Regions from separate parts of the Homo sapiens genome. Here region 2 is linked to region 1. A link means that fine-mapping ties the variant in region 1 to the expression of a gene that starts in the linked region. Tissue or cell type: whole blood. Region 1 holds a variant in brackets; the other region holds the start of a gene. Each region is shown on its reference strand, or each on the opposite one.

Region 1 (12,913 bases):
AATGCATACAAAATCGTACACAAATTTGCATCGGACAGCTGAGATCAAAATTTCTGTGGCATTAGAGAGTGGCATTCACTGGCAACGAGCTTGTCATTCTGCAGTGAAGTTATGAAGAAGGTTGAGCTGGGGAGGGCGAAGTTCATTGTCGTCCCATTCCTTATCAGTATGTAGAGTTTCTGTTCTGATAGCAGGTGAAGTACATCTAAAAATTGCCAGCATGGAGGTACAGAAACACCTGTAGTTTTTTAGTTGTGAATCTATTTGTTTAGCATTTCTAACCAAAGTAGTTTCAGTTAAATCATTGAAATTAGGAACATAAACACATTGACTCTAATACGCAGGTGTGATTTTTCTTTGTCTTCCACCTACCTCTTCTAATGTCTTATGTATTTAGAAACCTGTTTATTTGTAAATGAGGCTTTGTGAGGTTAAAGTGGAAAACTTCAGAAGGAAATTTTAAAGGACTTATGTTTATAAAGCCCCTTTTCCTTTTTAATGCTCAATTCGTAGACATGTTGGGAAAGAAATTTCATGCCTTATGACTGAAGTCACCTCTCTGAGATTTTTTAAACTTTTATTTACCTCGTATTTCATAGACCTATGTGAGATTGTATTTAGTTATACTTTGTTATGGTTTAGCTTTTCTAAAAATAAACTTTGTGAATATTTATCTAATGAAACAATGATTCATTTATAAACAGCCCCTTAAAAAAGAATTCCTCAATTCGAGTGGTCAGATTGCATGATCAGTAAGTGACCCCTATTCATTTTACATTGCACCCCTTTCTTCCATAGGGTTTACATGGGCAAAAATTATATCTGAGAATAGGATTTTCTGCTGCTTGTAGAATTAATCCCTGTTTGTATGGGAGAGGACAAGAAAAGGTTGTTGAGGGCTGATGAAAGGAAACCCTCACAAAGTTGCAAAGAGCTGCCTTTGAACTTGGTAAGGTTCTAGGAAATAGTCCTTTGCCTGGGCTGCTCCCAGCCATGAAATTCTGGGTTTTAAAGGAAAGATGTGTTGTAATGTTGCCCATCAGTGTACATCTTGGAGCCTCCTTGCAGGTTACTGCCACACACACACAAATGCATGAAAATTACATTTCACTTCTTTTAACACCGGATTAAGGGGAGCCACAGAGGGTGTTTAGGGTGGAAAATTTAAGGAGGCATTTGCTGTCAATGCTGATCTTGAACTTGGACGATCCTGAGAGCTAGTGCCTCCCTAAATTTTGCACCCTAGGCACCTTGCTTGCCTCCTATAATTTGGGCCCTGCTCTATTTTTGCAATTAAGAAAAACCTTGACCCAAGTAAAACACATCAATTTTTTGCTCTTTCTATATTTCTACCCTGTTTTTATTACCAAAATTTAATAATGACAATGAATATGATCATATAATATTGTTTGATTACTGTTTCTATGTAGTTTCCCCGAATTGGCAGGCATTCTGTTTCTGAACCAAAAACCAGTTTGGGGTTAGGTCTGGTCATAACACGCATTTTGTTCTTTGATTTCATTGGAGCTAGGGTTTGACATTAGCTAATAAACTTTGCATGCCCACGCCTTACTAAGTTGTACAGTTGCAAGTGTCCTCCATGAAAAAGACGTGTGCCGGCATTCCCAGGTCAAAGTTTGCTAAGCAGGTTTCTAAGGATTCTTACTTGCCAGTGATTTGGTTCTGAAATTGTGGCAATGGTAATTTGGTATTCAAAACAGAGAAGTTTGGAATAGGCATCTTAGCTGGGGACAGTAAAGCAGCCGACAGGAATTATCTTTGTTGTAGACACTACCACCATTACCTACTAGTTAAGGTATTTTGCAAAGTGTTCTTGAATGCGTCCCATTTTATTCTTAAGGAAAACTCCTTTTTGCGGGTACCATTATTACCTACTAGTTTACATATGAGGACATTGCTGCTTGGAGAAATTAAATCATTTACCCAAGTTCACAGGTCAATAACAACAGACCCTAACCCATGAGCCAGTGCTCTTAATACCAGTGATCTTAACCACTGTGTAGTCTTTGCTATGTTCCATTAATTGTCCAGGGATATTATTATAGGTACAGTTTGTCTTTTGGGAGAGGTACCAGAATTTCTTTCTTAAGTATTGCTTAAACCTTACCAGTCAACAGCCTTTCTTTGCAGAATGAGGAAAGCATTTAGTGCCCATACTGTTTTCGCAGACTTAATGGAGCAGGATTTTGTACATTTCTTTGTGGAAGCTGTTCAGAGAGGTGTGTGTAAGGGGAAAGGAAGCAGTGGGAATCCTTCACCCTGGTCAGGGGATAAAGATCTCCTGATAGACTAGGAGGTGTCTGTCAGTCACTAAGATTGAAATCTTAGAAGGAGTCTATTTCTGTGCTGGGGTTCCGTCCCCAAGGCTGGCAACATTCACATTCCTCGGCAGGGAAGCGTTGTTTAGAGGCATCAACCCGTGAAGGGTTCCATGAGGCCTGGCACTATCTGATGTGTGGTGTGTATGAATGAAGCCTCTTTCCTCAAAGCTGAAATCAGTTTGAGAAAACTGGAAGAATGAGTCATTTGAGGTTCTTCTCTCTGAACGTGTCTACACTTGTCTCTGGCTGATTCTATACTTGCATAGTTGTAAGTATACTGTATAGATTCTATACTTGCAAATGTTGAAATTTCACTATGATCTTGAGTAGGGTGAAAGAGAAAGACATGATATCCAAACCCCTCTCCCCCTGCCCCATTCTGGTGAGTATTCAAGTTTAATAAAAATATATGAAAAAGGCCAGATTCTTTTAGAAGGGCTTTGCTTCTATCTGTTGCAACCTGTGTCTGAACAGGTAGGGCACGCTGGACGTGGATGAGCTTCCTTTAAAGAACCATGCTGCTAGCGTGAACCTCATCCACACGCTCCCTTAGTGGGTCCTCTCAGTTTCTGTCTGGTAACTGGACATAGGCCTCGATGGTTTCATCTGTCCAGAAGGGAAAAGTACAATGGAATGGGAGCAGGTTGGTATGCAGACCTGTGGAACTAGGCCACTGACCTACTTCCTTCCAGCTGGAGTGATGCCCTTTCAGATCTGACTCCAGCCATGTGGCACCTGGTTGCCAATCACTGCCCAGATTGGCAGGTTCCTCCCTGACTCAGGCCATTCATCTAAGTGGATGTGACTGTTTGTAAGCTCGTTGGGGTGCCTCATAAACTAGCTTGAGAATGTGTAAGGCAGAGGGGCCTGGAAACATAGTGGCTAAATTTAAACAGTCATTCTTGCTGTATGTGTAGACATAGGTGTAGACAGAGGTATTCAGGCCACAACTACATGCTAACTTGTATGGTATTCTAAATAAGGTATTTGGATGATCACTGGCATTTATTTACTGAGGTTTCCTATGCAGAGCCCAGATTCCTGACTTCTTGTAACAAACCAAAAGATGTAGTAACACCAGCCCCTCTCCCATGCTGGGGTCAAGTGCCCATTTAGATGGGGCTTGTCAAAGCTGTCTGTTAGGGATGCATTCCCACCCACTCCCTAGTGTTTGAGTCCCTGCCTGCTTCATCCATTGAATCCATTGAAGCAACTGCCTGGCCCCTATGGGCATTTGAGTTTGCAACCCTGATGGAAAGCGTGTCCTGAAATAGATGTACTGGTATACACAAGTATGTAGACATAATCTGTATTGACACTTACTCCTGCTGAGGAATGTGCAGCCAGATTTCTGGAAAGTGCCAGTTTTTAAAATCCCTTCAATGATTTAAACCTGCTGGAAGCTGTGCATCCCATCTAAACAATGGGATCCATAGAGAAACATACTCATTGGAGAATTACGAGGCATATAATTTTGTCTTTAAATTCTTATGAGTGAATTGTAAGAACATGACTTCATAGGAACCTCTGAGACATTACAGTGTTTTAATAACACTTTGCTGCTACATGCAGTGGTTCATTTTTACTTTTATTAATTTTTTTTTTCAGTGTGTGGCAGCAGGTGCCCTGGGCACCTCAGCCCTATCTCTAGCTTCATCCTCCTCTGCCTCTGGGAAGCCGCCTGGCTCCCTCCCTCCTTAGGGCAGAGGCTCCAGGGGGCATGTCTTGTCTGCGAAGAGTTTACGAGGTTTCACCCACTCCTTCATTCTTGAACATGCTTTTTCTCTGCTTATTACCCTCCCTGTTTCCTCCTGGGCTGCCAACAACATATTATATTACCTCCATCTGCAACCAGAGCTGCTACCACCACTGTGCCCGAGCCTGAATTTTCATAGTTATATTAAAAAAAATCAAGGGTGCCCACAAGTGACAGCAGCTTTTATGGAAGCCAGTCTTAGCAAGATGGCAGAGCACCCATTTCTCCATGAGGCCCAGGCTTCTCAGAGAAGGGCAAGAACTGTCTTCTGCTTTGGCCATCGTGATGACACATTGAATGCCTGAATTCATTCACTCACTCACTCACTCACTCACTCACTCACTCACTCACTCACTCACCTATGAGTTGTTTTCAATAGATACTTGTATGTGTTAAAAGACACACATAGGCCGGGCACGGTGGCTCACACCTGTAATTCCCAGCACTTTGGGAGGCCAAGGTGGGCGGATCACCTGACGGCAGGAGTTTGAGACCAGACTGGCCAATATGGTGAAACCCCATCTCTACTAAAAATACAAAATTAGCTGGGGTTGGGTCACGTGCCTGTAATCCGCAGCTACTTGGGAGGCCGAGGCAGGAGAATCACTTGAACCCAGGAGGCGGGGGTTGCAGTGAGCTGAGATTGCGCCACTGCACTCCAGCCTGGGCAACAAGAGTGAAACTCCATCTCAAAAAAAAAAAAAAAGGTATAAATATCTATTGATAGATATTTATATCTATTATTAATATGCCAGGCATTGTTAATTTCAATACTGTGTAAAAACAGACTTGGGGCATACATAACACAGAAACAAATGGGAAATTTGAATTATAGGGAATTCAACAAAGAAAGGCCCTTTATATAGGGCAAATTGACTTGGTTGAAAGCCATGGAGTTCATACTACCTTAGAATCTTAGAACTTCTTGAGAAGCTCTGGACAGAGCTCATTTTTATTTTCCAGAACCTTTGGGAGGCAGTATATTCCATGGTTAAAATGTGGACTTCAGCATCAGCCCCATTCCGGTTCAGGCAAAACACTGCTGAGCTGCCATTTACATTGCTGGAGATGTGTGTGGCACTCGTTTCAGTTGTGCAGTACACCTCCTTCCCAGCTGTTCACAGCAGCCCTGATTTAGGCAAAACTGAGTTTGAATTCCTGCTTTTGCCACTTACGGTTTGTGAAGCAGCCTGTGTTTCTGTAGCCCTCCCACACTTGGCCTCCTCATTGGTAAAATGGGGGTTATGGCTCTTCCCTCACAGGTACCATGGAGAACACTAAGGACTAAAGGTATGTTGAAGCTATTTATGTCATGCCTGCCACGTGGTCTGCACTCCAGAAGTACTTGCTATTGCTGTTATTGAAATGAAAGATCTCCCTTGCACATCTTCCCCTGCCCGGCCACATTGTGCACTTTGAAAAGGATATCCTTCACATTCGTTTTCCAGAAAATTGAGGTCACTGACTTATTTCCTTCTTGAACCCTCTACCCTCCAGTCCCCATGGCCATCCCCACTCCCCCCAATCCCTTGGGTTAAGTCACAGCAGAGGCATGTACAGAGCATCCCTCGCAAACATCAGTTGCCTTTCTGTCTGCAGCAGGCCTGTTTGATTTTGGCTTCTTATCTGATGTAGGGAAGAAGCCGCACTCCTCTGAGCCTTGGGTAGGCCAGTTGTGGGCTGGCCCGTAATAATACAATTATGAAGGTTAACAGGAAAAAGTGGGGTCCAGGAGCAATTCCAGGCAGCTGGCAGGCCTGCTGAATTGGAAGCGCCCCACCAATGAAAACTGCAGCAAGAAGCAAATTAAACCTCCTATCTGCCATCTCACTCTCTTTTCTCCCCTTTCCTGTTTGGACTTGAAAGGCGATTGGAGCCAGGGCCCTGACAGTTGACGGAAGTGCTGCAAGGAGAGAGTATTTATTTACAGTGAGTCGTGGTGATGCTTGTTCAGGATGCGGTTTCTTGCAGGAAGTTCTGTCCCCACCCCCGGGTTTGATCATTTCTCCAAAAAAAAAAAAAAAATCCTTGATTGTTTGAGGCCTCCTCTCTGACTTGGAGCAACATTGTAGAACCTGTCTGTACTTGGAGGGTTTGCTGAGTGCACCTTTGTAGGAGGGCCTGGAGTGGGACGAGAGGCAGCCAGTGGGCCTGGCTCCCTCCAGATGTGTTCAGGCGCAGCAAAAATCATTAGGCATTGAAAATAGGGAAGTAGGCCGAGTACACGTGTGGTAAGCTGTGGTTGGCGCAGGCCAGTCTGTTCGTTAACAGAAACCAGTGCCAATTGACGTTGATGTACTAGGCGTTTGAGAGAGAAATCACTTTGAGGCAAAGTCAGTAGCTATAGTGCATAGGGAGTGAGTATTTAGGTAGAAACCAGTTGGGCTGGGGCTGGCTGGTGAAGCCCCTCTGAAGGAGGCTGAGTGCCAAGCTGCTGGTCCAAAATGTGGGGTGCTTTTTGCCTTTGGGGGTCTCATAGAATATTGGGAGAGAAGGGTAAAAGGGGAAATAGTATTCTGTTGAAGAGGTTATTTTGGTATATTCTTGGATCATCATAAGGCCACCCTACAATACTATAGAATTTTCTCATCAGCTGAGAAATAGCCTCCATTCTTTATTTAAAAGTATATACAAGTGAGAAAAAAATGACAAAAGGATACAAAATGAGACTCAGCTCCCTTCTTTAGTTTCAGAAATCCCTAGAGCAGGTCACTTGGCAGCTTGCTAGGGATGCAGGTTCTGGGGCCCTGTTGGAGGGAGAGTGGCAGAATCAGAAAATCTGGCATGAGGGCTGGCAGTCTGTGTTTTAACCAGCCCTATAGGCGATTCTGATGGTCATGACTGTTGAGAAGCATGGAGAGAAGGCAGTGGCTTTCCAACTCGAGTGTGCATCAGGGTCACCTGGAGGGCTTGTTAGACCGACAGACGTGAACCCAGAGTTACGGTTAGATAGGCGGAATACGTGCCCATGTCCTGTTCACAGTAGGGCGACTGTCATTAACAATAAAGTATTGTATATTTCAAAAGAGCTAGAAGAAAGTATTTTGAATGTTCTCATTACAAAGAAATGATGAATGTTCGAGGTGATGGATAAGCTAATTACTCTGATTTTATCATGACACCAAATATACATGTATCAAAACATCACACAGTACCCCATGAATACATACAATTATTGTGTGTCAGTTAAAAACAAAATAAGGGCCGGGCGTGGTGGCTCACGCCTGTGATTCCAGCACTTTGGGAGGCCGAGGCGGGTGGATCACCTGAGGTCAGGAGTTCAAGACCAGTCTGGCCAATATGGTGAAACCCCATCTCTACCAGAAATACAAAAAAATTAGCCAGGTGTGGTGGTACATGCCTGTAATCCCAACTACTCAGGAGGCTGAGGAAGGAGAACCTCTTGAACCCAGGAGGCAGAGGTTGCAGTTAGCTGAGATCGCGCCACTGCACTCCAGCCCAGCCTGGGTGACAGAGCGAGACTATGTCTCAAAAAAATAAAAAA[A/T]AAATAAAAAAAGATTTAAATAAAAACTGCAGGTGCTGGAGCCCCACCCTCAGAGATTCAGATTAAGTCCCAAGTGGGGCCTGACAATCTGCATGCTTTCATTTTTTTGAGCAGGCAACTCCGCCTGCAATCCCCTTCTCCCTGGTTTTCCTGATGGAGCAGGCCTGGGCTTTTGACAAATCCAGACGTGGGAGTGACTGTGATTGTTGTCAAAAAAACAAAAACAAAAGAAAAAACCAAGACCATGGAATGGAGGAAGCTTCTCTGTGGCATTATTACTGGGGCCGCGGCTAGTTTGGTGCAGGATGATACTGACGACAGAGAGGACCTCCGTGCCCATGTAGCTTTCTCCAGACATCCCAGCACCCAACTCACTGCGCGAGACTTGCATGAATAATTTCACTAAAATCAGCTGGACGTTCTCAAGATTCAGAGGAAATCACCAGTGTCCTCCTGTGGGTGTCTCCTTGTGTGTTTTAGTTGATCTCTGAATGTGGTTTTTTTTTTTTTTTGGCTTTTTAAGGTCTTCAGCCATTTCTGACAGGTGCTGTAGTTGGCCTGTTGTAATATGCAAAACCTATACAAAGACGTGTCCTTAGTCCCTGTGTCAAGCAACTCAGTCTGGTTGGCTAATGGTTAATGTAGAGAAGTATGCGTACAATGTCAGGGTGTTACAGTATGGAGCTATGCAGAAGGAATGAACAACTGGGGCATCTGGGACATATATGGTCAAGCTCCACAAAAGTGGGGCACCAAGTCTGAACAGGGCTTTGAGGCATGAATATGAGTTCCCTAGATGGTTCAGCTCCTGAGATGTTTAGTGCTTGGGAATTCTCAAAGTTGTGTAGGCATGACTTCTGAATGGGAAGGTTCTGGTGAAGATATCGTTAAGAACGTAGTGGGTGAAGCCCTCTTCATGCAAATAACATCAGGCAGAACAGAGATTTATTATGTGCAAATGACAGTAACCTTTATAAAATCTAGAAAATAATTTTTCCCCAATTTCCCCTCGAATCCAAACATTCTTCTGCAGTCTGAGTGGGGTTGATAGGCTGCCAAGATGTTGAAGGGCCTCAGTGGGAAGGGACTTGGCTAACAGTTCCCAGTGCCAGTGTTCTCTATAGCGTGTCTTGTTGAGCACTGGTGCCCTGGCTTGCTGCCCACAAGCCAGAATGAGTTTGAGAACTTGAGGGTTTACGAAGCAGAGGTAAGAACACCACCCTGGAGGTCTTTAGGACTGATTTAAAATTCCACCAGTGGTACTGACTTTGGACACATTCCTCAACCTCTCCAAATGGTTCCCTGTTAGTGACGCCGGGGGCATCGTAGGATCATTCTCCTAGAGCATTTAGCACAGGGCCTGACATGTTAGTGACTACTCACTCCACTGCCTGCTCACAGGCATGGGTAAAAGGAAGAGCAAAACAAACAAGATGCCTGAACTGCTAGGCCAATCTGGAGCAGAGCTGCTAACTTCAGCGCTGTTGACATTTGGGGCCAGAAAGTTCTTTGTTGTGGGGTCTGTGCTGTGCACGGTGGGATGTGTAGCAGCATCCTTGCCTCTGCCATTCATTCCTGCCCATGACAGTGACAACCAAGACTGTCTCCAGACATTTCCACATGTATGTCCCGTAGGGGTTAAAGCTACCTTCTACTTCCATGAGAATGACTGATCCATAGTACAGTCCCACCTAGGGAGTTGTGCCATGATTTGCAAAGTTATTTACCCTTACTAAAGGCACTGCTAAGCTAGGTCTCTAATCTAAAATATGGAACAAAATTTCACAAGAGGCAGCTGAAAAAAGTTTTATATTATCCTGTTTGCAATAGGGAATGCAGTTACCTTTAAAAAACCTGAAGTACTATCATAGCTGACAGAAAAAGAGAATTCCTAACATATACCTGGTGCATGCTTTCCATTTAATACCAGTTTCACTTTAAAATGTGAGGAACAGGGTAGGGTCTTTTGCTTGTTTAGTTTTCCAATTTTTTGTTCCTTATTCTTATTTTGTTTTATTTTATTTTTGAGACAGGGTCTCACTGTGTCACCCAGGCTGAAATGTAGTGGCATGATTATAGCTCATTGCAGCCTCAACCGCTTGGGCTCAAGTGATCCTCCCACCTCAGCTTCCTGGGTAGCTGGGACCACAGGCACATGCCAGCATGCCTGGATAACTATTTTTTTTTTTTTTTTTGAGACAGAGTCTTGCTCTGTCACCCAGGCTGGAGTGCAGTGGCACGACCTTGGCTCACTGCAACCTCTGCCTTCCGGGTTCAAGTGATTCTTCTGCCTCAGCCGATTCTTCTGCCTCAGGCTCCCAAGTAGCTGGGACTACAGGCATGTGCCACCATGCCCAGCTAACTTTCTTGTATTTTTAGTAGAGACGGGGTTTCACCATATCAGCCAGGCTGGTCTTGAACTCCTGACCTCGTGATCTGCCCGCCTCAGCTTCCTAAAATGCTAGGATTACAGGCGTGAGCCACCGCGCCCGGCACGGTGTCTCACTTTGTTACCCAGGCTGGTCTCAAACACCTGACCTCAAGCAATTCCCCTGCCTTGGCCTCTCAAAGTGCTGGGATTACAGGCATAAACCACTGCACCTGGACTTGTTTGTTATTTTTAATTGTGGTAAAATACACATAACAGAATTTATCATCTTAAATGTTTTGAAGTGTAAGGTTTAGTTGTGTTAAGTATATTCATATTGTTGTGCAACCAGTCTCCAGAACTTTCTCATCTTGCATAACTGAAACTCCCTCCTCCCCTGGCAACCAGCATTCTACTTTGTCTATGAATTTGACAACTCTAGATACCTCATATAAATGGAATCATATAGTATTTGTCTTTTTGTGACTGGCTTATTTCACTTAGCATAATGTCCTCAAGGTACGTGCCTGTTACAGCAGGATTCAGAACTTCCTCCTTTTTTTTTTTTTTTTCCTGAGACAGAGTCTCACTCTCTCGCCCAGGCTGGAGTGTGCAATGGTGCAATCTCCGATCAATGAAACCCCCATCTCCTGGGTTCAGGCAATTCTCCTGCCTCAGCCTCCCAAGTAGCTGGGATTACAGGCGTGCACCACCACACTCAGCTAATTTTTTTGTATTTTTACTAGGGATGGGGTTTTGCCTTGTTGGCCAGGCTGGTCTCAAACTCCTGACCTGAAATGACCTGCCTACCTCGGCCTCCCAAAGTTCTGGGATTACAGGCTTGAGCTGCTGCGCCTGGCCCCTTCTCCCTTTTAAAGGCTGAATAATATTCTGTTGAATGTGTGTACATTTTGTTTATCCATCCTTTGCTGGACACTTGGATTGCCACCACCGTTTAAGTATTGTGAATAATAGTGCCATGAACATGGGTGTACAAGTATTTCTTAAGTTTCTTCTTTCAGTTCTCTAGGGAATATTCCCAGTAGTGGAAATGCTGGATCATGTGGTAATTCTATTTTTCCTTCTTCTAAGTTTTCTTACCTTTTCTTAGCTGAAAGAAATAGAATGCACTGCCCTTCAGACCCCTCCCCACCCTTTCTTGAAGGTTTTCATTACATCACTGCTACCTTTGATTCTTTCTCCCATTCCCACCCTATGCACATGGACACACAGAAAGGTTTTCAGGAACCAGGAAAAGGCAATCGTTTGCATGCATGGTCCCAGGGTTCTGAGCAGCTCTCGTGCAGCCATAATCACACCTTGACCACTTTGTCATCAGGACCTGTGCTGCTTGTAGCCTGAAGTCTGCCCGAGCTCTGCATCTGTGGCAAGGCCTGGCACCCTCACTGCCTGTCTGCCACCTGCATAGGCAGTCCCATCCTTGTGCAATTTAATGAAACAGTGGAGAGGAAGATGAGTTGTGAGAGCAGCGAGCTGGTGTCTTCCTTCCTATAGAGCCTTGGAGAGCGGGTTGTAGCTCCAACCTTAAGGCTCTGTTCCTTGCCTCCGAAGAGCTCCTGTCCCTGCTACCATCCACTCTGCCCTGTGGTCTCCACCAGTGGGGTTGGGGAGGGCTGGGTGGGATGCTCAGTCCTCCAGCCTGTGTAATTTACTTTATATTCCGGTTCTGCATTGACATTCTCAGTGTAAGAAAACAGGAGAGCAAAAAAGCAATATGTTGAAAAGCTTGTATCTATGGAGACTGGTTTTTTTTTTTTTTCTCCAAATTAGACTGAAACCTCCCTAAATCTATATAATTCTATTTGCAGAATGGGCCTACCAAGCCTTGTGATGAGGACTAGATCTTGGCCATCAACTGCTGGGGGGTATAAATGAGGTCCAAAAGACCCAAGGGAGAGGCAGTCTCAATGTTTGGAGACCAAAATTATGTGAGTGGAGGGGAGCCTGGAGAAGGTGGCCGTAAGTCGAAATCCCTACTGTGCTAGGATGCTAAATCCTTTTGTGAGCCAGAGTTTCCTCTGCTGATGGCCAGGAGGATGGAGAGTCAGCCGAGATAATGGAATGCACAGGAACTCATGCCACAGCAGGTTACTCTTAAAGGTGGATAAAGAAGTGGAAATAGGATTAGTCTTGCTGTTTTCACATTTTTGAAAGCAATCCAAAAACACCAGTACTTTCCGGCCGATGTAGCTCATATTAAACGAGGCTGCCAGAAAATGAAGAATAAGGGACAACATTCATTCATTCATTCATTCAGAAATAGATTTTAAGAGCCAAGAATTCAGTGCTGAGCAAAACCAGACACAGTGTTCTTAAAGAGTCTACATGTTATTCCATTCCTGTAATTCCTGTGCGTAACTGAACATGTTAGATGCCTACATTTTCCTGAAGGTAATAAATTGTTCAATTATTTTGTTTGCTTTTATCCCATTACTTTCATATAACTAGTAGAGATAGATTCCAGTGGTAGAATCACATAAATACATTTCTTCTGGAAATAAGTCACTGTTATTGTTTCAATCCATGTTAATTTTCTACCCCTCCCATCAGCAGATCCGTGGGCTCTCTTTGACTCAATTTCGTGTACACAGCTTTTCTTCACCTCCTGGAACCAAGCTTTTCTTTTTGTCTGCAAGTGCGGGTGGGGCCCTGTCCTCTTGAGGCAGCTTGTTTTTCACCTGATCATTTTTTTGGTTTGGGTCTCTTACGCCCCAGCCAGAGGAACAGGCTCTTAATTCCTGTCCAGCAGGGTTTCTTTTTATTCCCAAAGGCATTATGATGATCACAGACTCGGAAGTTCATGCTCCTCCACCCTTTGGGCTTGCGTTTTATGCTGGGTGGAGAGAGAGGATGGTGGAGCCATTGCTGAGTGTCTGTGATACCTTCTTCTTTGGGGAACACTCAGAGAGACCTGGGGTGTT
Region 2 (12,913 bases), not on the chromosome of region 1:
TCAGTTTCTTTTCTTTACACTCATCTAAAAATGTTTCAAAAATTCCATCCTGTGATTGCTGCATAATTCCAACACTTGCTGTACCTGATATTCTACAGGATATCCCAATTTCTTGAGTCACCTTATGAAAAGTGTGCTAAGGGAAATATATTCATTTTTGTTATTGTTTTGAAAAGAGGATCTTACTAAATTTCAACAGAAACAGCTTCTAAGAAAAAAATAAGAAATTATGCTGCAATGAAACTTATCACTTAACAATAATTACTAATTAAAAGATCATCAGCACTTTTTTTTTAATGGTTCACTCAATTTTAGCACTCATTCATTTGTTCATTTGCTTCAAAAATAGTTAGGTGTCTACAGGTGCACGTTGTTGTGTTTGTTGCTGGGGATGTAGAGGAAAGAAGTCCCTGCTCTCTTAGAACTCAGTCTTTCAGGACATTGGATATTAAACAAATCATAACTCTGCAAAATATTTAGTTACAATTATGATTTATGTTACAAATGGGAAATACAGAGTGCTGTAAAACATACAAAAGGGAAACTTACTAGATCTCTAAGAGGGGCTCAGAAAGACTCCCCTGAAGAAGTAACATTTAAACTAAGATTTGATGAATAATAGTTATTCAGGCAAAAAGAACAAGGGGATGGGTGCTCCAGGGAGATGGAACATAAATAGAAGGCTTGGACTTTCTCCCTCCACATAGCAAAAATAAGCATAGCATCTTAAAAGTTCAACAATAACTACTACTATATGAATTGCTTTAACTTTAACACAAGAGGATTTTATAATAGCTGTACATGCAACATGAAGGAAGCCATAATGGCATATAATTTATTTGTCTTTGAAATAACTGGATTCAAAGAATACCTTCAAAGAAACATATTTCCCATGCAAACACATATTCAATTGTGGGACAATAAATATGTATTACACAGTGCTCAAAATTTAGAACTTCTTTGCGAGTTCCAAGATGTGACTCATATATACATCTACTATGAAAAGAAGATTACACTCTGCTCCATGGAATGTCATTTAAGATAGAGTAGAATGAATGAACACTTGTAAGCAAGTTAGAAAGTACAGGTCCTAGTTGCAGTTTTACTGTGACCAGCCTAAGTTTTCATTTCTTTTTGCAGTGTAGGTAACATTATCTCCTTACAGGGACACTATGAGAATAAAATGTGTAATGTTTGTTTTGAATTTTGAAAATTGGTATAAACTATACAAATGGAATATTTTATCATTTTTTTCCCCTGAAAATTCTACACATATTTGGGTTTTTCTTATCTTTGATCAGATGTCTTCCCTTTATTGGAATGTTTGCAACATGTACTCCTTTTTTTCCCCTAAAGGTCCAATTAAAATCCCATTACTTTTTTGAGGCTTTTTTTCCACCATAGAAGTTATTTTCTCTACCATCTCTAAACTCTCTTAGCACTTACAAATTATCTGTGACTGGCATTTATTGACTTGTATGCTTATTTTAATGTGTGTTTCAAAAGCATAGTATTTTGATGTTGAAAGGGAAATTAAAGTTTGGTCCGATAGATTTCAGAGGTCGGGCTTTCCTTTGAATCATTTCAACCCACTTGTCAAATAAATTTTGCTTGAACAGCTCCTCTGACAGATAGCTTGGTATCCTTTGATTAAGTATATTTTACTTCTTGACATCTCTAAGAGAAAGTTATTTGTTTTTAATTGAGACTAAATATGTCAAATTGCTTTCATACCTGGCAACTATTTCCTGATCCTTTCTACCATCGTCTTCCTTTTTCTGGGCAAAGCAAGCTTTCAGAGTTTCAGGTATTTTAGTTATACTTATTTTTCTTGCCTAAAAATATTCCAGGAGAATATCTATCTATCTATCTACCTATCTATCTATCTATCTATCTATCTATCTGTCTATCCATCCATCCATCCATCTATCTGTCTGTGTGTGTATGTGTGTGTCTTATATTTAGAACTAAATGTATTATTTAACTACAATAAAATGATTATCTTTTGTTTTAAATATTATAATTCTGGCATTTCAGCCTCAAACTTCATTACATTGTTGATGATCATATCAAGTTTATCTTACTTTATATTAAATCCACATGTCTTAGTCTCAGGTGATTCTGCTAAATCATATATACCCACCATAGATTACTGCAATATCTTTTTTAGATATAATTTCCAGGATGCTAAATTATGTTCTGTTACTTCTGATGGTGAGTAGTAGAGAGTAAGCCAGTAAACCATAAAATAAAAATGTTATGTTTTCTTTTCTTAAATATACTTCAAGCTGCTTACAATGAGAAGCCATTTGCTTTTTTACCTGAATTCCATTACATAATGAACTTCAAAGCAAATAGGTGCCCATTAAACACCTAAGATATGATGATGATGATGATAATGAAATGATGATTTGTTTATATGTATTTATTGTTCATATATATGTATGTATAACTACATTTGCATATCCATTGTGAAAATACATAGAATCACTGTCCAAAGGATGACCTGCTCAAGATTTTATTAACATATATGTGAAGATGCATTTGACATACTCATAATATTGAGAAATAATAAGACATGCCCTTTCTGTAAATGGCAAGGAACACATACTTATTTGAGTCACTAGCAGGGATGAAAGATTTTATCATATTGTGAAATACTTGATGTTTTGTGTTTCCAGCACAGTAGTATATCTTAATCTTAACATAGTATAGTTAACTGAATATATTTGACACATTTTCCTCTTTCTAATGTTGTGCTTAGTTTTTCATGATGTGTAGCCATGAGACCTACCTTATTTATCATGTATTTCCATCAGTGCTTTATTTTCGACCTTTCCTTCTTCAAAAGCAGAAAAAAATCAAAGAGGTTACAAAAGGTAGTACTCCTTTATGCTATATAAACTTGAACCAATCTAGTGGATTTCTGCTCTACTAGTACATCACTTTCTCCTTTTATCTTGGTAGAGGGTTAGTTTAAATGTCATGATTAAACAAAAATGTTTTTGTATGCTGGCATATTCCCAAAGTTCTGTATCATGTTCAGATCACAAAGATTAAGGCATATTTTAACAGATAATGCAATCTTCTGCACTTTAAGAAAAAAAATTTAAAAAACACACCAACTGTTTCAGTCCGCAGTGTCACAGAGAACAAAATCTGTTCTACTTTAAAGACAAAGGGACTTATCACAGGCAATTAGTCACAAAGGCACACTTTAGAACTTGACCATCAAGGAGACTGCTGCCTCAGCCAACCATGATTAGGCAAGATGTGGAATCAGAAGGCTAACTATAGAATTGGGACATTTCAACTATATTTGCTAGTCCAGAACTGCACACCAATATTACACTCTCCAGCAGCAAAAATGGACACTTTCTGTCCTGCCTCTCATTCCATGAAGCTCTAAATCGAAGTCTTACTTCCAAAACCATAATTATAAGGGAAACTATACATTGCATTAAAAAAAAAATCTTGGCCAGGCACGGTGGCTCACGCCTGTAATCCAGCGCTTTGGGAGGCTGAGGGGGGGTGGATCACTTGAGGTCAGGAGTTCAAGACCAGCTTGGCCAATATGGAGAAACCCCATCTCTACTTGAAAACACAAAAATTAGTGGCCAGGCGCAGTGGCTCACGCCTATAATCCCAGCACTTTGGGAGGCCGAGGTGGGTGGATCACTTGAGGCCAGGGGTTCGAGACCAGCCTGGCGAACGTGGTGAAACCCTGTCTCTATCAAAAAATAAAAAAATTAGCTGCACATGATGGTGTGTGCCTGTAATACTAGCTACTCGGGAGGCTGAGGCAGGAGAAACGCTTGAACCCAGGAGGCGGAGGTTGTGGTGAGCTGAGATTGCACCACCGCACTCCAATGTGGGCAACAGAGCGAGACTTCATCTAAAAAAAAATAACAAAAATTTAAAAATTAGCCAGGCTGAGACAGGAGAATAGCTTGAACCCTGGAGGAAGAGGTTGCAGTGAGCTGCAATGAGCCGAGATTGCGCCACTGCACTCCAACCTGGGCAATAGAGCGAGACTCTGTCTCAAAAAAAATATAAAAATAAAAAAATCTTTCCAGTCTTTTCAGCAGAAGAAAACATACTAGAAGGGGATTAGTGTGCATATTAAGCAGGATGGTCTGTATTATACATCACATCAAGCATTTATTTTCAAATGTTCATGTTGACTGATATTGAAAATAATCCTGTGTATTAAGAAATATCTATCGTAATTCAATCCTAGATTATTAAAAATTAGATGTTCACAGCTTCTAAAACTAACTTATTTCCAAGTTACCCTTCCTGTTTTTCTCTCTTATCGTGGGAGAGGAAGTGAGCCCCCTGAGGGGAGCAACATTCTAGACAGAAATAAAAACAAGGGAAAATAATTTTGTCTGTATTTATTTTTATTAAAGAAAAAAGAGGAAGAAGAAAAAGAAAAGAAAAGGAATAAAAAAAATAGCACAGGTAAGCCAATGGCACTGGAGAAGAGTAAGTAGGAAATTAGAAGAAGGTGAAGTCAAAGAAGTTATGGAAGAATAGATTAAAAATAATCTTGTCATCAAAAGGAATTTGTCTCTTTTACTCAGATAGGAAGCCCTTAGGGTTTTGAGCAAAGAAGGGATGAACTCACTTGACTTCTATGTTGAGAACAGACTGCAGGGAATACATCATGGGTATAATAAGGCAACTAGTTATCATACTAGTAATATGGGAAAACAATGATAGTGAAATGGATCAGGTTGCTATCAATGGAGGCAGGTTTTAGAAGCAGTGATGAGTGTTTAACGTACATTTTTAGAGCATTTTACATATTTAGAATTAAAAGTAGTAGACACTGTAAATTGTTTTGAAAATTAGAAATAGATTTAACATGTAGGGCATTTGGTTAACACAATTTAGCATTCTTTACTGATCAGAAGATGCATTGTCAGTTCATGTGTAAGAAACAAAATGTCACTCAAAATTACAAATATATTGTTGGGTCAGGTATAGAGGAAATATAATTTCCAACTTTTGAAATATCTTGGCTGAATTAAGCAATCTATACTGTTATAAAGAACAAGATAAATCTTCAATGTCTCAAGTAAAATACCTTACTATTGGGAAGACCATCTGTATCAATATCAGGAATGTGTATATGGATTTCCAAAATTTTTGGTGATAGTAGAGAAAACTTTCCAAGGATTCTTCACTTCCAGATGACACTGTGCAACTGAGTGACCCCAGCCAATACAGCCTATTTTACTGATGGCTGACAACTAAGATTTTACATTTAAGTATCTTATTTTGCAAGTCACTTTCATAAAATGTTGAGAGTGATTTACAAAGCCTTTATGATTTGGAGGAGAAAAAATCAGTCAGAAAACAAAAACACATCTCCCTAAATAACAATGTTATTTAAATCTTCTACCATACAGAAACTACAGGTTTCTAAGGGGTATGAAATGCATCTTGATCTACTAGTTACTGAAAGCATAAAACTAATTAAAAAATAGAAAAAATAAATATCCTTGCCACATGAACCACATTTGATTTAAATTTGGCACTGTTAAAAATGGGATCAAGCACACAGAATTTCCAGTGTGTTAGATGCTAAGAAAGCCAGTTGTTGATAATCAGAAGTAATATGAGGTAGAAATTCTGTTAGTGAAGAAGACAGGTATAGCCTAGGATAATCCTGCTAATTAAAGCGTAACAGATTGCATGTCTTCTAGAAAAGAGGGATTCAAATATCAAATAACTTTGTAAGTAGCTGCTCAATAACTGGAGGTAACTGCAAGTCAGTGGTAGAAAGGAAGAACTGTAGAAGGAACCAATTAACCAGAGGCAGTTCAAGTTTGCAAGGACAAATCTGAAGGTTTCTCAAATAATCATGGGTTAATCTTAGCAGGAAGAAATTAAGAAACTAATATGTATAATATGAGCTTTAATCAATTTATTGTGAGAAAAGATAATTAAGAGAAAAGAGTTTTCTAACAAATGAGTAGGGGCATGCATAATAACTTGAAAATGATTAGGATAGTTCATTTGTATACAGTTCACTTCTCTAAAAGAAAATTAGGAAGAGAAATATAGAATATTAAGGCATAATAAAGATCTTATTGAATTAGTAACTGCATGATAGGTAGTAAAAGGAATGCAAGGGAGGTTTAGTTATTTAGATATATTAAGCAGCTGCTTTACAAATAAAATGTCAGAGGCTTAAAAGTGTTAACACAGTGTCAGTATCACCTCTACCCCTTACTGGGTGTTTGACTAAAGACTATGTCCTCAAACTTGCTGTGATCAGTTTTCTCCTCTATAAAGTAAAGTTTAAAATAGCATTTACCTCTTGGACTTGTGATACTTAATCTGTACAAAATGGTTAGAAAAGTCTGAGGCACTTAGGGAAGATTTGATAAATGTTAACTATCATCATCATTATTATTGTTATTTTAAATTATTTCTTTATAATTAAGCAGAATCTATTACGTTGATGATTGATTCTGCTTTCTACGTTATATAGAATCTGAATTAATATAACAAATATTTGTTGTTTGCCTGCATTATTTGAGACTCTGTGTTAAGTGCTGGGGTAAAAACTGACCAAGATAGACACAGTCATTCTCTTTAGGCAGTCTGACTGGGGACATGTGCAATTAAGTGAGTTGAAGTGGAAAAAACAAATGCCTCAAGAGAGTCAAATGTGGATAAAAGTGCTTTAGAATCGGGCCTTTTCAAACAGTAACTTCAGAGATCTGGCCTGGTATTTGTAAAGCTAAGGAAGCTTTCATTAAGAGGTAGAAGCCTTAGTTACTGCTCTTTTCTTAATCTAATTAAGTCTAAGGAAATATACTTTGAAAAAGTGGCTGCGAGATAACACATTATGCTGGGAATTACGATAGGAAAAAGAAAGGGTCCTGTGTAAGAATCTAATGGAGCAAGTAAGTGTTCTGGGAAGAGGGAGCGGGGTATGAATAATCACAGAAACGTAGTAAGAAAATTATATTCTCTTAATTAAATATTTTATAGGCCTATAATAGGAGTATTATATTAAAATACACTCTTTAAAACTTGTGATCTACTAAAAAAATAGAAAGATTGATTAATAATATTGAAAGCCTTAAGAACATAAACACTGAGATATGATAACTATTATTGAGGCTGCCTTTGACAAAAAGAGGGAAAAACATTTTTAAAACATAAAAATAATTGAGGGAAAGAAAATTCTACTTTGATATAAGAAATATCACAATAATGTTTTATCTCGTGTTTTTTTTCATAAACTCCAATCTTAACAGGATTACTATATGACATTACTGTAAAATATCTTTTCTCTTCCTTCCCCACTTTCACCACTCCATACAAGAAAGTGCCACATGTGGTCATAATCTGAATAAATGATAGAGAAAAGCAGAATCTACTCATAAAACTCAAAAAATAGAAGTCTTAGAAATAAGCATAATGTAAATTGAAACTAGATGTCCCATTTTAAAGACAACACCTTACCTTGACAAACGCTGTCAGGAAACACCACATTTATTTCAGAGCAGAACATTTTTTCTCTATTTCTTCCCTTCCATCCTACCTCATGAGGAGAATATTATACCAGTAAATCTCAAAATCATCTGGAATATAATTTCAATACGTGAAAAAAATCTGTAATTTGTCAATAGTCTATTTAAAACTAACACTCAGAAAAAATGGCAGCACACTAAACATTATGTGTCTAGTTAGGAGCACTTAAGACATCATTGTTGAAGTCCTTTCTGTTAACATTTAACCTCCTGGGGTTTAGATAATAACTTATTCATTAAACTGCTAACTCCCTTTCCAGCAGGATTTGCCTATGAATTTTTAACTGGGGCCGAACCTCCAGATGTCTTCCTCCTCCAACTAAATTCTTACCATTTCTTTTCCATGCTGCTCACTTCTTGCTTCCCATAATCAGTTAGCATCTAAGAGAGCCCAGTTTGTGTGGCTCCCCAACTAAATATATCATTCTGAAATTATTCTCTCCACATAAGTTCAGTACACATTAGGGCTATAAAAATATTTCAAGTTCTGTATAGGATGTATTCTAGGCTCATATTTACTTATTTTTTTCTCCATGCTAATTACTCTGTTTTTCACATTATTGAAGTAGAGTAAAATGGTCTCTTAACACCCATCTGTAACTCTATTTTCTTTTATGTTCAGATTCCCTAAATAGCCTCACAAGATGATCATTCCTTTCCATAACCTCTAAGAGAAGATCTAAGAAGGAGCTATGAAATCAAAGACCAAAGATCTGACTCTTCTGTGAGTCACTCTGCCCTCTACAGTGACTGTTCATTACTTAATTTTACAGCCTAGTGTTGGGGTCTGCCTTCAAATGTTCTGTGTCGTGTCCAACACACTTTGTCATTTTCTTTCTAATCCTTGTGATTATTATTGTTGTTATTGTTAGCTTCCTATGTAAAACTAGTTCTCAGCTTGATGATATAAAAACTATTTTAGCCATAAATGTATCTCTTGTATTTATATAAAAGGAAAAGGAGTATTTTAAACACTTCTGACAACTAATAAAGCCAGGTGTGTGTGTGTGCATGTGTGTGTGTGTGTGTGTGTGTGTAGAGAGAGAGAGAGTGAGAGTGAGAGTTTAATCTAGGTGTTAACCCTGGGGTCTTGGAAAAGTTCCCATTTGAGTAATTGAATTTTTATTAACTCACTTCCTCTTGCAGGTATTTTTCATTTAATGCAGCACAGTGTTCTGTATTATTTCTGGATGCTAAGTTGTTGCTACATTTCTCCCTGTGGTGACTACATTTCATCAATGAATAAAGCCGTAACTGATACATGAAATCATTTTATTTTGATATATGTGCTTTGGAATCCTCCCCTATTTTAAAACAGATACTGGAAAAGAAAAGACAGATGATAGCAATATAGATAGAGGAAACAGATATCTGGGGGATTCCTATTATTGAAAAAATAGTCTTATTTGGTTTTGGTATTATCCCCTAAATTCTGTAGACTTTTGTTTCAGAAAATAAAGAAAATGAATGGATTCACTCATTTATAGGTGATCCATTTAGGGAGTCCTTGGGAAACAATAGTGTAGACTTAAAAAAAAATGTAATAGGAGATAGATCTGGCTATTTTTTTTTCTTGTCCTCTGAATAATAGCTGGTGACAACACAGATGTTAAACACAAAATATTACAGGGATTAATTCATAGCGCTCTAGTTTTCATCCAAGGTCATGTGCAGTGCAAACAATAAGTTCCAGCCAGGCAGTCTGTAGTGGCAATTAAGGACCACCTAGGGTGGGGGTGAAGCTGAAGGTGGCTCTGACCCTAGGAGGTCTACAGTCACTTCAGTGTACCTCCTTGGAATGCCTTCTTGTTCCTATAAATTAAACAAAAGTGAATTTTCTCCCCTTTAGGGAACAAACAATCCATGCCTCAGATCCTGCAGCCTAAGCATTTCCTCCTTTAGAATTGCAACTGAATCTCCTCTAAACAGCAATTAGCATTTTAATAGTATTAATAACATTCACGATTTTAACAATCTGAAGCTTTCTGCTTTTTATTGATGTCTTTTGTTGCAATTTTGTCTAATAGTGTGCCCAGGGTAGCAAAATATAACCAATTAAAACATTTGCCAAACAGCAAGGAATCTGGAAAGTTTCAATGCTGCTCGACTAAAAATGAAAATGGTTGTATGAAAATAACATTTCCAGCCAACAAGACCAGGGGACATACTGGCAGTCCTTTATGTTACGATTCTGCTTCAGAACTAGGGTAAATCGTTCAGTGTTACCTTACTAATGTCAGATTAGAAAAACCAAAGCTGGCAGTCTCACATAGAGTCCCTGGAAGCCTCAACTCCATATAGTTTACAGAAAGCATAAGTATACAGAAAACTGGGTAGTTTTAGTTTAGTATAAGATTGCACTATTTGTATGGAATCTTAATTAGATTCCTTGGTTATATATTCTCAAAACACCTTGTGTTTTTCTTTCAATTAACACAGCATATCTACTTATACAGTAAAATATTAACATTAAATACTTACTATGTGCTAGTCAATGAGTCAGCAATTTATCATGAATCATTTAATCTTCACAATAACTCGAATACTGAGGTCTATTATTAACCTTTCATTATAGACACTGAAGCTTAAAGATGTGATTTGTCCAAGGTTAAAGAGCTAGTCAATGATAGAGCAAAAATACAAACCCTGGTCCCCCTGCCGTCAGCCTATAACCTAGTGTGTACTTTGGAGGTATAGGGAGGAGGGGGGTTGGTTTTATTTTGTTTTGTTACAATGTCTGCCTCAGTGACAAGGCTCTAAAATTGAAGAGAGAAAGAATTGTTCCTGTTTGCTTCACTGCTTTCTCTCTCTAAATTAGCATGGTGCTGGGTGCATAGTAAGAGACAGCTGGATCTTTCCTAAATGAATGAAAAGTATGCATAGATTTGCCTTGTCTAACTAGATTATCATTGGGCTTTGTTTTCTTGCTTGGTGTCATTTATATCTTCTATGTTCCTGATTCCTAAAGGAAGTATACAGAAGTTTGAGCATTTATTGGTGCTTTATCTTCTTGGTAATGTTCATTTGCTTCTAAAGGTGCGTGTTTATATATATGAATAATGTTATATCCTCTGTTCGTTCCAAAAAAGTATTTAGGGTATACGGTTCTAAGAATTTATTCTGCCATTTGTGAAAGTTCTTGCTTTCCACAATTAATCATCAATTTCTCTATTTCCTAAATTTCTTTTTACTTTTTACTTTTTTTGGACAAATTATTCCAATTCTATTACTCATCTGGCTATCCCATTATGTCAAAAGACTCTATATAATTTCCTATATTTGAAATAAACTATCACTATTTTAATAGGCTTTATATAGTAATATCCTGAGCTGAATTGGGTCAGATTTGGGTAAGAGCAACACTAAAGTGCTCCAAAACCACTTCTTGTAGCTCCTATTCCTTCCAAATAAATACTTGTGCTTGTGTATACACTAGCCTGAGAGAAAAAGGTCACCATAAGAAATGGTTTTGGAGCATTTAAGTATTGCTCTTACCCAAATCTGTTGCTCTTACCAAATTCAGCTCTTACCAAATAAATTCTTAGGATCATATACCCTTTGATAGTCATGCTTCTCAAATTTAAGGATCAGAATCACCTTGGGGGCTTTTTAAAATACAAGTTGCAGGGCCCATATAGGAAAGATTCTGATTAAGTCTGGGGTGAGACTTGATTATTTGTATTTCTAACAAGGTCTCTCATGAGGCTGCAAGATTATACTTTAAGTAACACTGAACTATATAGAACTACATTGGAAATATATAAACTATATTAGAGCAGTGGAAGGTTCAGAAATCAGACATTGAGAAGAGTCATAGTAATGCTTCTGATTCTCTGCTATCTGATGCCTCAGCCTCAGTAGACCAGTCATCTAGTCCTAGAGGATGCCATCAAGCAGTGTGATGCTCTTCAATGTACCTCTTACAGGAAATATAGAAAAGTAAAAAAAAAAAGAACAGCTAGCAATTCTGCATCCAACTCTTGTATTCCTTCCACAGTTCTGGATTTGAACACGATATCTAATTCATGACCTTGTTTTTAAACATATTAAGCATGAAACAAATATATTTTTATTAAACATATTAAGCATGAAACAAATATATTTTTATTATTTTTTAGCAGATGGCTATTTAATATTTTTATTCAGTTTCCTACTCATAGTGGTTGCTGTTGCCAAACCTTTGACTCAGCCAACCATGCTCCTTTCTTTGATTTATTAGGCTTTAAAAAAAAACTTTGTCTTTGTAATTTATATGATTAGGAACTCCAGGAAGAAATGACAGTCCAACCCATGGCTAAGTATATGCTCTGTACTTGAGTAGTGAAAAGTTAGTCCTCGTTAGACTATAACTCCCAGCCCAAAGGTCCACATTAAAACAAAAGCAACTAAGAGTGATATCACTCATGCTGATCCAATCTGTGTAGAGGAAAAGAAGTGGGCCTGACTTCCATAATTTCCTTGGTATAACCACAACACAGCATTTACTTCTTGGCATTGACTCTACTGAGTTATTGAATCTTTCACTTGACAGGAAGCTCTTTGATGGGAGGAAAAAAAACCTCATCAAACAAAACCACAGTTTCTTTATCATTGTGTCCCTAGTGCATAGCACAGAATTTAACTCATTGTGGGTGCTAAATTTCTATTTACTAAATTAAAACCAATTCCGTCCTTGAATGACAATTTCTATTCTAATAATATTTTAACATGGGATTTGAGTACCTTCAAATTCCAAGGGAAATTGTGGTAGAGAAGAAATAATGAATTTCCACTTTAAAAAGTTCAAAATTTTCCATGTTTTGTGTGAAAACTTTAAAGGCATTAAAAATTTTATATTTATAATAATTATCATGAATACAAAACTCCAAAATAATTTTGTTGCTATTCAGCTTTTAAAACAAGCTTCCCTTATTCTCTTTTGATCCATTAAGATCTGAATGAACTCAACACCTAACTTTTGTTGTTACTGTATGAAGTACTAGGCATTCTGAAGTTGTACATACTTTACATCTAGCTTTTGCTAGCTAGGGAGCTCATTAACAGTTACTTCTTCTTGGCGAATAAACTGCCCCATGAGAGTAAAAGAACTGCTTAATTCATAAGTTCACATTCTTTTAAGAGGTCACTTAACCTTCTAAGTCAATTATAGGACATTAACAATACTCTGCCTCCAACAATTATTTTTCTAGGTTATGTAGATATAGCTGTTTGAGGCCTGACCAGATATATTCAGGCTCTATCACTCAGGTCTGTCTGCAAAGGCAGGGTTAAATCACTTTCTACTGAGATTCAAGATATCAAGGGAAACACTTCACAGTTATTTTGACTGCTGTAATATCAATATTCAACATGATATA

Evidence for each region.
Region 2: LINC01781 starts here. The variant in region 1 is fine-mapped to the expression of LINC01781 in whole blood (TOPMed, PIP 0.96).

Annotation. Positions count from the first base shown.
Region 1 is chr3:71,437,581-71,450,493 of GRCh38, reverse strand. The region is part of intron 3 of FOXP1 (forkhead box P1); the gene reads left to right. Among named protein-coding and RNA genes, the nearest start is that of MIR1284, 98 kb to the left of the region's middle. RefSeq lists enhancers at 5,989-6,128, 6,519-6,628. The variant A/T (reference allele first, on the strand shown) is at 7,604.
Region 2 is chr1:80,530,518-80,543,430 of GRCh38, reverse strand. LINC01781 (long intergenic non-protein coding RNA 1781) reads right to left here and starts at 7,676. Exons shown (of 3, transcript NR_125941.1): 1 at 7,489-7,676.